Homo sapiens: one gene and its partner. The protein of the gene in region 1 interacts with the protein of each later gene in a biochemical or structural test. Each region holds a gene or a part of one and is shown on either strand. Other genes may lie near its edges. The genes, in order: H2BC4 and HPF1.

Region 1 (5,358 bases):
TTTTTCTTGTTACTTTTTGTTTTGTTGTTTTTTTTTGAGAGTCTCACTCTCACTGCAACCTCCCCCTCCTATATTCAAGTGATTCTCTTGCCTCAGCCTCCCGAGTAGCTGGGACTACAGGCGTGCACTAGCATGCCCAGCTAATTTTTGTATTTTTTAGTAGAGATGGGGTTGGTTTTTTTTTGAGACGGAGTTTCACTTTGTCGCCCAGGCTGGAGTGCAGTGGCACGATCTTGGCTCACTACAACCTCCACCTCCCGGGGTTCAAGTGATTCTTCTGCCTCAGTCTCCTGAGTAGCTGGGACTACAGGCGCCTACAGGTGAACACCGCCACACCTGACTAATTTGTGTAGTTTTATTAGAGATGGGGTTTCGCCATGTTGGCCAGGCTGGTCTCAAACTCCTGACCTCAGGTGATCTACCCACCTCAGCCTCCCCAAGTGCTGGGATTACAGATGTGAGACACCAGATCAGCCTCAGAAGACATTTTCTATTGGAAAGAGAAAACACTATTAGCAACCTATTAGTCTAATATTTAATACTTAATGTCTTCCTTAGTAATAAACCAACTCTCTACAACAAAGTGCTTCCTGGCTGCCTAAGTCATTGATTCATTCAGTTCAACATTTTCTCAATGCCCAACAGCCAAGTGTCTCTTGTATGCCAAGTTCTATGCTGATTATCAGTATTTGAATAAGAGGGGGTCTACATCTTAAGTACTGCTTAAGATGAAAGCCTCTAGGTTAACAAACTTAACACAATGTATCATTCACTACTAAATAGACCGAATACAAAATCTTGTTATTGGAGCCCAGAGAGAAGAATTGAAATTCAAGTTTTCTCTCTCTCCTTTTCTCACTCACCACAATAAGTCAGTTGCACCAAGTCTTGTAGCTCTTTACTGAGCCATGTTTTCACGTGTCCCTTTGTTTTATTTGCCACACCCTAAATAAAAATTGTACTGGCTTTTTTTCCCTGGGTTTACAGTATTAATACATTGTCAAGATTTACCTCTTCGTGTAGATTCCCTGGGGAAAATTACCTTTCCTCCTTCCCTTAAATTCTTCAGAGGTTAGAAAGCCATTAGTAACATTCTGGTATGTGGACAAAGTTTACCCATTATGTATGGATGTTTTACTCTTTCTATTTTTCTGACAATAATCTCTTAAGGAGGTGTGGTTATAGAATAGTCAGCTGTTATAAGTACTGTTTTCCTGGCCTTACAACTTAAGTTCTTTAAGCTGTTTCTTAGTTTGCTCATCTCAAAATTCGGAATAAGGATAAAACCTATCTCTTAGATTGTTGGATTAAATGAATTAACATACTGGAAGCTCATGAAATGTGCCTGGCACACAGTAGTGCCTAATAAACCATCTCTCTTATTCAGCCTGTTTTCTGATTTCAGAATCTACACTTGCTGAGCCAGGTTCTTTTCATTTCAAGGTGAGCAAAAGCATACAAGGAAGAGATGGAGGTAGGAAGAGATTAAGCCCTAGGCCAAGGTCACACACCGATTGGGAGCTGGAATCAAAGGCAATTTGGTCAGTGAATAAAAAGGATTCCAAGGCCCATAAGGCAATTCTAACCTTAGGATCGAAATTCTCGGACATACAGGAAATGCTGGGGGGGGAAAATCCGGTCTTCTCAGCCCAAGAGCCATGTGAAACCAGACCTTCAAATCTGATGATTCTCAGCCCAGCTGCCCATTAGAATCGTTGTAATTTAAAAATACCCTCGGAAAATTCTAATATGTGGCTATCAAAGGTGATCATTTGCTTTTATGCCACTTTGTTTTCACCCAAATGGGACATCCAACCCTTTTCCTTTGAGAGTAGTTGTAGGGAAAGGAGGGGGTGGAGGGAGGGAAGAGCGGAAAAGGCTGGATCCGCCCTGAGCCGGTGTCAGTATCTGGGAAGTGGGAGGCGCGTCAGCAGTAAACAGCTTCTGCTAGGATTATTATCTCCTGCCACACACTCGGATTTGAAGGCTCCAAACGAAACAATGCAAAACGCTTCAGTGGAGTTCCAGAAGCGTTAGACTAAACGACTGGGTCTGTTTGGCCAGTCTGAGCAGCTGGGCGCAGATGCATAGGCAAGACTTAGCCCGCCTAGACTTTTCTGCCCACTTAATTCCGATCAAAGCAGAAACCGGCCGGGCGCGGTGGCTCACGCCTGTAATCCCAGCACTTTGGTAGGCAGAGGCTGGCGGATCACCTGAGGTCAGGAGTTCGAGACCAGCCCGGCTAACCTGGTGAAACTCCGTTTCTACTGGTGGCGGGCGCTTGTAATCCCATCTACTAGGGAGGCTGAGGCCGGAGAGTCGTCTGAACCCGGGAGGCGGAGTTTGTATGCAGTGAGCCGAGATCGCGCCACTGCATTCCAGCTTGGGCAACAGGAGCAAAACTCCGTTTCAAAAAAGCAAGCAAACAAACAAAAAAATGCAGAAACCGAGATCCGGAAGAAAACCTCGGCGAGATTCACAGAATCCAGGAAAATAGGTCTCTAGAAATTTGTCCATGGTCCCAGATCTCCATTTCTTGTGGGTGGGGCAGCTGTTACCAGATCCCTAGAAGCAAAGGTTTTTTTGGGGGACCGTGTCTCACTGTTGCCCAGGCTGGAGGGCAGTGGCACGATCTCGGCTTACTACAACCTCCGCCTCCCAGGCTCAAGCGACTCTCCTGCGTCAGCTTCAAGAGTAGCTGGGATTACAAGGTATGTGCCACCACGCCCAACTTATTTTTTTATTTATTATTTTTATTTAGTAGAGAGGTGTTTCACCATGTTGGCCAGGTTAGTGTCGAAGTCGTGACCTCAGGTGATCAGCCCCCTCGGCCTCCCAAAGTGGTAGGATTAGAGGGGTGAGCAGAAAGCAAAGGTTTTTGAGTGGCCACAGGCCCCACTCTATTTCCTTTTCTGCCTGTAATGGCAACCTAGACGCTTGAGCTTCTTAAAATACAAGAGTAAGTTGCATGTCAGGCACCGTTCTACATTAGGGACATTAGTCTGTTTTACAGACACCTTTCAACTCCCTGGTTAACTTTTAGGTAATATACTCTGCACTTTAGCAGGAATGGGACCTATAACTCTCACAGAATTAGGAAAGTGAGGCTGCCTACAGCCTAAATTGAGAAAAAAATAGACGGGGGACTAGTCGGAGGACCAAACAAGGTTACCAACACGTTAGAGTTTTGCCTTCAATTTACATTTTTAAAGTAATCACAACGAAGTGTTTAGATCACGAGGCATCCCTGCATGTAAACTGTTAGGCACTAACTATGGTCGATCTTACAAAGCATTAACTAGAATATTTCTTTAGAGTATGATAGTACGTAACTGACCTACTATTACATACAAACAGACCAACCTTTAGTAACAGCGCTCCCCAAAAACCGAAAAGCAGTAATACGCTTTGCTCAAGGTTGGCATAAAATTAACTTACCTTAGTGCCTTTTTTCCTTCTACCTACAAGCAGTGAGGTTAGCTCTTCCTTTGAAACGGTAGGGGGGCTCTGAAAAGAGCCTTTGGGTTTGATAGCGTTTCCGGGAGCTCAGATACCTGTCAAATCACTTGCCCTTGGCCTTGTGGTGACTCTCGGTCTTCTTAGGCAGAAGCACGGCCTGGATGTTAGGAAGGACGCCGCCCTGAGCAATGGTCACCCGGCCTAGCAGTTTGTTGAGCTCCTCGTCGTTGCGGATGGCCAGCTGCAAGTGGCGCGGGATGATGCGAGTCTTCTTGTTGTCGCGAGCCGCGTTGCCGGCCAGCTCCAGGATCTCGGCGGTCAGGTACTCTAACACCGCCGCCAGGTACACCGGCGCGCCTGCCCCAACCCGCTCTGCGTAGTTGCCTTTACGGAGCAGGCGGTGCACTCGGCCCACCGGGAACTGGAGACCAGCGCGAGAAGAGCGGGATTTCGCTTTGGCGCGAGCTTTGCCTCCTTGCTTACCACGTCCAGACATTGCAATCAGACAAAAATCACCAAAACCAGCGGCCTAAGCTCACGAGAAAACAAACAAAATCAAGAAATATGTAAAACATGGCCGCTTTTATAGGTAGTTCCTGGGGAGTAAATCCGACTTTTTGATTGGTCGGTAGCAAATGCTAGTCAGATAGCCAATAGAAAAGCTGTACTTTCATACCTCATTTGCATAGCTCTGCCCACGGATGACAACTGTGCAGTTTGTCTTCCAATTAACTAAGAGGTACTCTCCATCCCTCATTAGCATAAAAGCCCTATAAGTAGCAGAAATCCGCTCTTTACTTTCGACACATTTCTGGTGTTTTAAGATGCCTGAGCCAGCCAAGTCTGCTCCCGCCCCGAAGAAGGGCTCCAAGAAGGCAGTGACCAAAGCGCAGAAGAAAGATGGCAAGAAGCGCAAGCGCAGCCGCAAGGAGAGTTACTCTGTGTACGTGTACAAGGTGCTGAAACAGGTCCATCCCGACACTGGCATCTCTTCCAAGGCCATGGGCATCATGAATTCTTTCGTTAACGACATATTTGAGCGCATCGCGGGCGAGGCTTCCCGCCTGGCGCATTACAACAAGCGCTCGACCATCACCTCCAGGGAGATCCAGACGGCCGTGCGCCTGCTGCTTCCCGGAGAGCTGGCCAAGCACGCCGTGTCGGAGGGCACCAAGGCCGTCACCAAGTACACCAGCTCCAAGTAAACATTCCAAGTAAGCGTCTTAACACCTAACCCCAAAGGCTCTTTTAAGAGCCACCCAGATACCCACTAAAAGAGCTGTGGCCAGACGCCAAATTTTATTTGGCGGCGGAGGGGTATTAGAATATAGGAACTGGAGAGGGGTGGGGACAAGTGTTGCAGCTTAGAGAGGGACAAAGGGTCCTGAACCCGAAAGAAGCCAGCCATTAAAAATGGCTTTGGGGTCAATTCGTTGTGCTTAAATTTAAAATGGAGACAAGCGGCCATTTTGCTAACTCGGCGTTCCCGGAAGAAACCGCAGGCTCGCTTAGGTTTCAGACCCAGCTGTCTGTCCCTGTCTACGTCGCCAGGATCAACGGTTGCCGTAATGTCATAATTTCGCCACCAGCTTCTAGCCAATAGGCTGTCCTGTCATTTTAAATATTAACCAATCGAGGGAAAGCTGTTTTGAGACTCTGATTTACATAGCGGACCGGAGTGGGAACCTGGGCAGTAACTGCCTAAGGAAGGACTCCCCCTCTGTTTTCGTGGCGCACACCTTCGTAGTATACTGAAGGGTGTGTCTCCTGGGTTTCCAACTGCCCCGGTAATAGTCTTTTAACCTAATATGCGTCAGTTTTGATAACAACACTAAGGCAGTACAGAACTAAAGATGTAAGCACTGCGCCAGATGTTGCTTCATACATCTTATTCTATTC
Region 2 (7,290 bases), on another chromosome or scaffold:
TGGGACCTATCTTCTTCCAAGCAGCTGCAATACTTTGAAATCTCAGAGGCAGAAGAGATACCACATGGAGGCTGTGCTTCCACGATCTCCATCAATGAGCACAGCTGTAGAGGCATCTGATGGTTCTGCAGCAGCTGTAGCTGAGATCCCAGCACCTGGTTCTTAGCTTCACGGGGGCTGAGAGGCAAAGAGTAGGGCATCCATTTACCTGGCCCAGATTATACCAAAGATAATGTGGTCCTAGAGCCACTCACTGTGGCAGCAGTTCTCGAATTCCCAGCTCCCTGATGGTGGCAGAGACAAAATCCACTGTGAGCCACACAACTGTCATTCCTGGAAGCTCAGCCTGCTCCCTCAACCCTTCCAAGGATATAATGACCACCTCTTTTTACTTTATTAAGCCTTTCTGTTTGAACCATACATAAGAAATAAACTCTTAACAGGTGTTTAAAATCAGATGTCTAACAAAACTGTTGATGTTGCCATGGAACACCTGAGGTCAAGTATTATTTTCGTTAAGTAAAATAGTTACATAAGAGGTGTATTTTTTTGGTGAAGAGGCACAAAATAACAGTATAGATAAGACTACCTGCAAAAGTCATGGAAATTATCTCTAGAAATCTACAATTATGGGCTTGTCTCAAATCCGCTTTGTTTTTTTTTTTGGAGATAGAGTCTCACTCTGTCACTCAGGCTGCAATGCAGTGGCGCAATCTCGGCTCACTGCAACCTCCGCCTCCTGTGTTCAAGCAATTCTCCTGACTCAGCCTCCTGAGTAGCTGGGATTACAGGTGTGTGCCACCATGCCTCCAGCTAATTTTTGTATTTTTAGTAGAGATGGGGTATACCCATGTTGTCCAGGCTGGTCTCGAACCCCTGACCTAAGCGATCTGCCCACCTCGGCCTCCCAAAGTGCTGGAATTACAGGTGTAAGCCACTGTGCCCAGCCCCTCAAACCCCCTTTGTAATGGACTAATGTAGTATAAACATTGTAAACAAATATAAATTAAAATATTCTTACTTGACTGCAGCAAATACATTATCTCCATTTGGAACAATTATACAATTTTTCTTTGCTTCATTTATACCAACATATACAGGAAATTCATCAGGAGAATCCCTGTGTAAGCAAAAGACATTAAAAATTTAGCTGCCCATAATTTATATTATCAGGCAAGTGGGATTTCAGGTCTACAGACAACAATTTACACCTATTTTTTTTCCTTTTTGGAGGCCTTTTTTTTTTTTTAATCATACCAGAATTTATCGATTACATCAAACAAAAATTTCTGTAATGGAAAAGGCAAGTTGCAGTCATAAAAGATGGCATTCACATTCATTTTAGAAAGCAACAACGTAGATGTAAAAAATTGTTTAAGTGAAAAATGTAATATTGCAGTCCCATTTTGCAAGCTGAAAAATTTTGTCAACACACATAAAATCTGCACATTTACATACTGCATGTTAAAAAATTCCATCACTAAAGTATTATAAATATTGCAAAGTTAGGCTTAAATTTATACTGTTGCTGGTGTATATGTAGTAGATATGGAATGAATGTTTTCAGTTTAGTAGGTAGCATCCTCAAACAACGGACAACAGTTGTGAAAATTACAAAGACATTTCAATAGCTCAAAATTATCCAAATTATAGGTACATCGTCCTATTATTACACTTTTTTCCCTTTCTCTGTCACAAATAGGATGATTACATTGTAGTGGTAGGAATACTGCATGGTCTACTTCAAATTATTCGATCTGCTAACCCCACACTAGTCATTTTTCATCAGCTCCTCAGTAAAATATCTTTTAAAAAGGAAAGCCAGGTCCCTCCCAAGGATCTAGGTTGATGCCTTTTTTATAAGGGCATTTTTAAAAAAATTCAAACAAATTTGCCAGTTTTAAGCTCCAAGTTTCTTAGGAATATCTATGATAAATCTTATATAATGGAACCTAAAACTAAGATTCTTAGGACCTAGTTGCTTTTATACTCAAATACAAAAAAAAAAAAAAAGGAAAAACAAGAAAAAGGATTGTAAAACATTAGAGATGAAAGGATCCTATTCACGTATATAACCAAACCTTTTATTTTAAAATTGAGGAAACAAATACCGAGAGGTTAAATTACTCAGCCAAGGACCTAGTAAGTTAGGACCTTGGCTACAGTATAATTCAATTCCTAGCCACATGTGCATTCTGCTGTACTACAACACTTCTTCCTGGGCACGTTCCTTCTATTACCTTACATTTAATCTTCACTTTAAAGGATAGCATTTCTACTGGTACAAGCGGACAAGTATTTTCCTCCTGGAGTTTCTCTATTTCTAAGTATTCTGCATGCATTCATTTAATTCTCATAATATTCCTATCAGGTATGTACAGTTATCCCTATTGTTACAAGACAGGAAACCGAGTCACAGAAAGTCACAGTCAGTAATGATACAGGGTCACACAGATAATAAACAAGAGGACCAGTGTGACTCCAGAGACCACTCTTAACTACCAGTTGCCACTCTGGCACACGGCTTATTAAGCACAGCTGCTCTAAATTATCTTTCTTGGGCCAAAAGAGCTCTTCTGAACCCAAAAGGGAAAAAAAGTTTACAAGGAAAGGAAAAACAAGTGAGATTAAACCTAAAGAGTTTACCCATCCTAGGGAAGGTTAAAACGGTAACAGCAAGAACAACAGATGGCTCATATATCCACCAACAGGGGAAAATATGCCTTTCACCTTGGGTGAGGCTAGTGAATAACTATTTATCCTCATTAGCAGGACAGCAGCTGTATTTTAGAGGCGAAGAAAAGATCCTTTACCTGAAATACCCCATGTGGTACTGAGTTTTATTATCTCCAATAATAATGGTCTGGAACTCAGGAGGATCATAGTAAAACCTCCAGTGAAGGTTAAAATTCAGGCCTGTTGATTTTTTCTTCGTTTTATGTTTTCCAGCAAGGATATCATAAGGACCAACTAATTGAAGTCCAAGGCTTGCAGAAAGTGAATCTATAAAGAAAATAAATTTAGACAATACTTTCTGGAGACAGGTAGGAAATAATGCTTTTATTTAGTAAACTATTTCTAAGCAATTGTCTTTAAAAAGTTTCTAAACTAAAAAAATCTTGAGTTATGTGTGAAGATGTCAGTTATAAACATTCAATGGAAAAGAAGTCAGAGTAACAGGAAAAGTGGTATTTACATTTAGGATTTCCTCTTAAATTTACCACTGAATTAGCCTAACATTTCAGACATTCCTGTTGTTTCTTATTTTGGCCAAAGCAAGACTGGTTTGTATTCCTATAGGCCCATTACCACACTGCAGTTAGCCTCAAATACTTGTAGTACACACAGGTTAAGGGAGAGAAAGATAGCAAAAATGTGTGGATTAAGAGTAGTAAAAAACAGGCCAGGTGTGGTCGCTCACACCTGTAATCCCAGCACTTTGGCAGGCTGAGGCGGGCTGATCACCTGAGGTCAGGAGGAGACAAGCCTGGCCAACATGGCAAAACCCCGTCTCTACTAAAAATACAAAAATTAGCCGGGTGTGGTGGCTCACGCCTGTAATCCCAGCTATTGGAGAGGCTGAGGAACAAGAATCACTTGAACCCTGGAGGTGGAGGTTGCAGTGAAACGAGATTGCGCCATTGCACTCCAGCCTGGGTGACAGGGTGAGGCTCTGTCTCAAAAAAAAAAAAAAAAAAAAGGTAAAAAACATTTCTATCCCCTTTCCTCTACCTCAGCTAATCACACCAGATTCCCCTGACTCTTTGACAATCTATTTGGCCAACCCTAACCCTGGATGACTCCATCTTCCTTCTCTATTCACGGATCACAGACAGGGAGTGTTCATAAACCACAAAGACATGAAGTCTGTGCAAGTGTACAATGCATAACTTCAAATGGGTCCTTACTTCTAAGATGGAGGGAAGCACCCCAGACAGGACCCAGTTTTATAAGGAGGGAAGGATGAAGAAAACAAAAAAATTCCTGGAAGAGGTAATAACATGAATAGAAGCATGGAGATAACTTGACAGGAAAAATAGTTCAGCTTAACTGAAGCTTAGGAGAGCATACACTAATTTTTAAAGCATGAAGAAAACTAAAACCATCCATCTCATTAGCCGAAGATAACAGTTAATAGTCTATTATACAGTAACAAATTTCCATACTCTCCACCCCCATGAACAGATACAAACATGTAACAAACTGAGAAGGGTTGTTTTGTATTGTAATCTGCTTTTGTCCTCCATCCTGTCCCATTTAAATGTTCTGAATATTTTTCCATGCTATTCAATGTTATTTGACATGATTTTTTAATAGGGCATAATACTGCATTATAAAGAGGTAACCATCTATTCTCTTACTGAGGGAAATTTACTATTTCTTTTTTCTGTTCTAAAATGTTTCAGTGAACATCTTTGCTAATAAATGTTTGTATACAGGCATGACTTTTTTTTTTTTTTTTTTTTGAGATGGAGTCTCGCTCTGTCACCCAGACTGGAGTGCAGTGGTGTGATCTTGGCTCACTGCAACCTCCGCCTCCTGGGTTCAAGCAATTCTCTGCCTCAGCCTCCCAAGTAGCTGAGATTACAGGCACCCGCCACCACGCCCAGCTAAAGGCATGACTATTTTTAAAGAAACAGCTACACAGTTCTGTTCTGATCTACTGGCAAAATTCAGAATATGTATCAATACACATTTCCATCAATAGTGTATGACAGTGCCTACTAGTTAAAAAATTTAAATAGTATAGTGCAAAGTAATGAACACAGCCCATTAACAGTTTCTTTATCCTTTCAGAGACAAAATAAGCACACAGAAAAGTATACAGGGATATGTGTGTACTCTCTCTCCCCCATGCTATTTTTAAAAAAATACTAATGGTAGCATACTCTATACACTCTTCTTTTTCACTTAACATATTTCAGGCATGATAGTTTATTATTTCCTAAAAATCTGCTTCATTCTTTTAAAACAATGAAGATCTACTGAATAGATGTGGTATTGGTAGGCATTTAAGCCATTTCCCATTTTTTCTTTAAGTAAATATCCTCAAACATAATTCTTAGTTTATGTAATCCATAAGACAAGTTCTTGGAAGCAGAACTGTTATAACTCCTGCAACACATGAAAGAGCTTGCTTTCCTTCACATTCCCCCAGAATGTGATGAAATTACCTTTGCCAATAAACTAGGTGACAGTGGCATTACTATAGCATTAATCTATATTTCTTTCTATATTTTCTCTTACTAGAAGAAACATCTTGGAAAATATTTGTTTTCTATGAACAGTTTATATCCTTGGTTAGGTTTTTTTTTTTTTTTTTTTTTCTGAGACAGGGTCTTGCTCTGTCACCCAGGCTGGAGTGCACTGGCACAATCTCGACTCACTGCAGCCTCTGCTTCCCAGGTTCAAGCAATGATCGTGCCTCAGCTTCCCGAGTAGCTGGGACTACAGGTGTGCACCACCATGCCCAGCTAAATTTTGTATTTTTAGTAGAGACAGGGTTTCACTGTGTTGCCCAGACGGGTCTCGAATTCCTGACCTCAAGTGATCTGCCTGCCTCAGCCTCCCAAAGTGCTGGGATTACAGGCATAAGCCACCATGCCTGGCCAATTATTCTATGTTTTAGAGACGGGGTCTTGCTCTGTCACTGAGGCTGGAGTGATCAGAGCTCACTGCAACCTCAAACCACTGAGCTCAAGGAGGGATCCTCCCATCTCAGTCTCCTAAGTAGCTAGGACTATAGGCACATGCAACCACGTCTAGTTTTTTGTTTTTGTTTTTAATTTTTTTGTGGAGGTCTCACTATGTTGACCAGGTTGGTCTCAAACTCCTGGCCTCAGGCAATCCTCCTGCCTCAGCTGGGATTACAGAGTGTGAGCCACCACACCCAGCTGGTTTCCTATTACATTACTCTTTCCATTAATACAAGAATGATTCTGGAGCAACTCACCAGATGGCTTTTCAGGATCAAGTTCTTCACAGAACTTCCAGAAGTGATAGAAATCTTCAGGTAAAGAAAGCTTATAATGATTTTCTACTTCTTTTCGAAGGTCACTGGAGACATCAGCTTCACAGAATTTACTTTTCTTCACATCAGTTGTTTTTTCACACTGAAAATTGGCACACAAACTTTAGTTCTCCAAATTTCAGTAACTCTCCTTGCATAACAGTATCTATCACTCTTGTTCACCCAACTCTATGAAATACATGTGTTTTCCTTAAAACTCTCTAAATGGTCTTTGAGTAAAATCTGGGAATTCATTTGGGCACAGGAAAAAAGAGTAGTTTATATGGTGGTTAAGAGGAATCCACACAGCAAGTCTTTAAATATATTTTTGTAAGATAATGGAAACCACAAAAAACAAAAAGGTAAAAAAAAGAAATAATAAAGAGCAGGAAGAGAGGAATAAAGAAAGGGCAGATTTTGCCCTCTTTTGGTTAAAGGTGTGAGTCTTTTAAACAGATTCATTGATCAAATGAGAAACAAATAGAAGTAACTGGATATAAGCAATTCATCAGTTAAAAAGCTGTTTCTTTAGCAACTTCTAGAGTTGTGTCTGAGCTATTCACTACAATCATTACCCAGCCTTAAAAACAGATACCTCCCTTTTGATTTTCCAGATAAAGAGGGAAGGTTAGTGACAATGTTAAACATCTATAGTTCCTAATAAAGTTAGCAGAATAGCACTAAACTCTGGGCCAAAAATCCAATTATTTCAGAAAAGGCCTTTTAATGCCAGGATGAAGTTATAATACTCATCTCTAGGACCACCACAATACAGGTTCATTATATAAGTATACTAGGTTTTATAATGCCTACTAGATATTTGATAAATTTCTGTAAAGACAATATGCTTAATTGGAAGTTACGTATGTTTAGTTTTCTAAGCAGCAATCTGTTTTTCTATGAACCTAGATTCTTTCTTTTTGGATTAAGTTCTTTCCTTTTTATTCTTCCTACCTAGAGCAGTGGTTCTCAACCGGTGGTGATTTTGCCCCCCAGGGGACATTTGGAGACCTATTTAGTTGTCACCAATTGGAAGAAACGGTGCTAGTGGGGCAGAGGCCAGGTATGCTCAACATCCTATAATGCCCAGGATAGGCATCCTCAACAAAGACTACTGGCCCCAAATGTCAACAGTGCTCAAGTTGAGAAATTCTGAGCTAGATGTTTCTCATATTTATATATTTTTTTATTTTATTATTATTATACTTTAAGTTTTAGGGTACATGTGCACAATGTGCAGGTTTGTTACATATGTATACATGTGCCATGTTGGTGTACTG

What was found.
Region 2: the proteins of H2BC4 (region 1) and HPF1 form a complex in vitro, tested with the Homo sapiens proteins (one study listed by BioGRID).

The regions. Positions count from the first base shown.
Region 1 is NC_000006.12:26,122,830-26,128,187, reverse strand, and holds H2BC4 (histone H2B type 1-C/E/F/G/I), read left to right. Parts: upstream 1-4,261; 5' UTR 4,262-4,283; coding exon 4,284-4,664; 3' UTR 4,665-4,721; downstream 4,722-5,358. Other genes in the region: H2AC6 (histone H2A type 1-C), read right to left, coding at 3,563-3,955. UniProt on the Homo sapiens protein: Core component of nucleosome. Nucleosomes wrap and compact DNA into chromatin, limiting DNA accessibility to the cellular machineries which require DNA as a template.
Region 2 is NC_000004.12:169,747,723-169,755,012, forward strand, and holds part of HPF1 (histone PARylation factor 1), read right to left. Parts: intron 6,114-7,290; coding exon 5,954-6,113; intron 3,004-5,953; coding exon 2,814-3,003; intron 1,121-2,813; coding exon 1,022-1,120; intron 1-1,021. UniProt on the Homo sapiens protein: Cofactor for serine ADP-ribosylation that confers serine specificity on PARP1 and PARP2 and plays a key role in DNA damage response.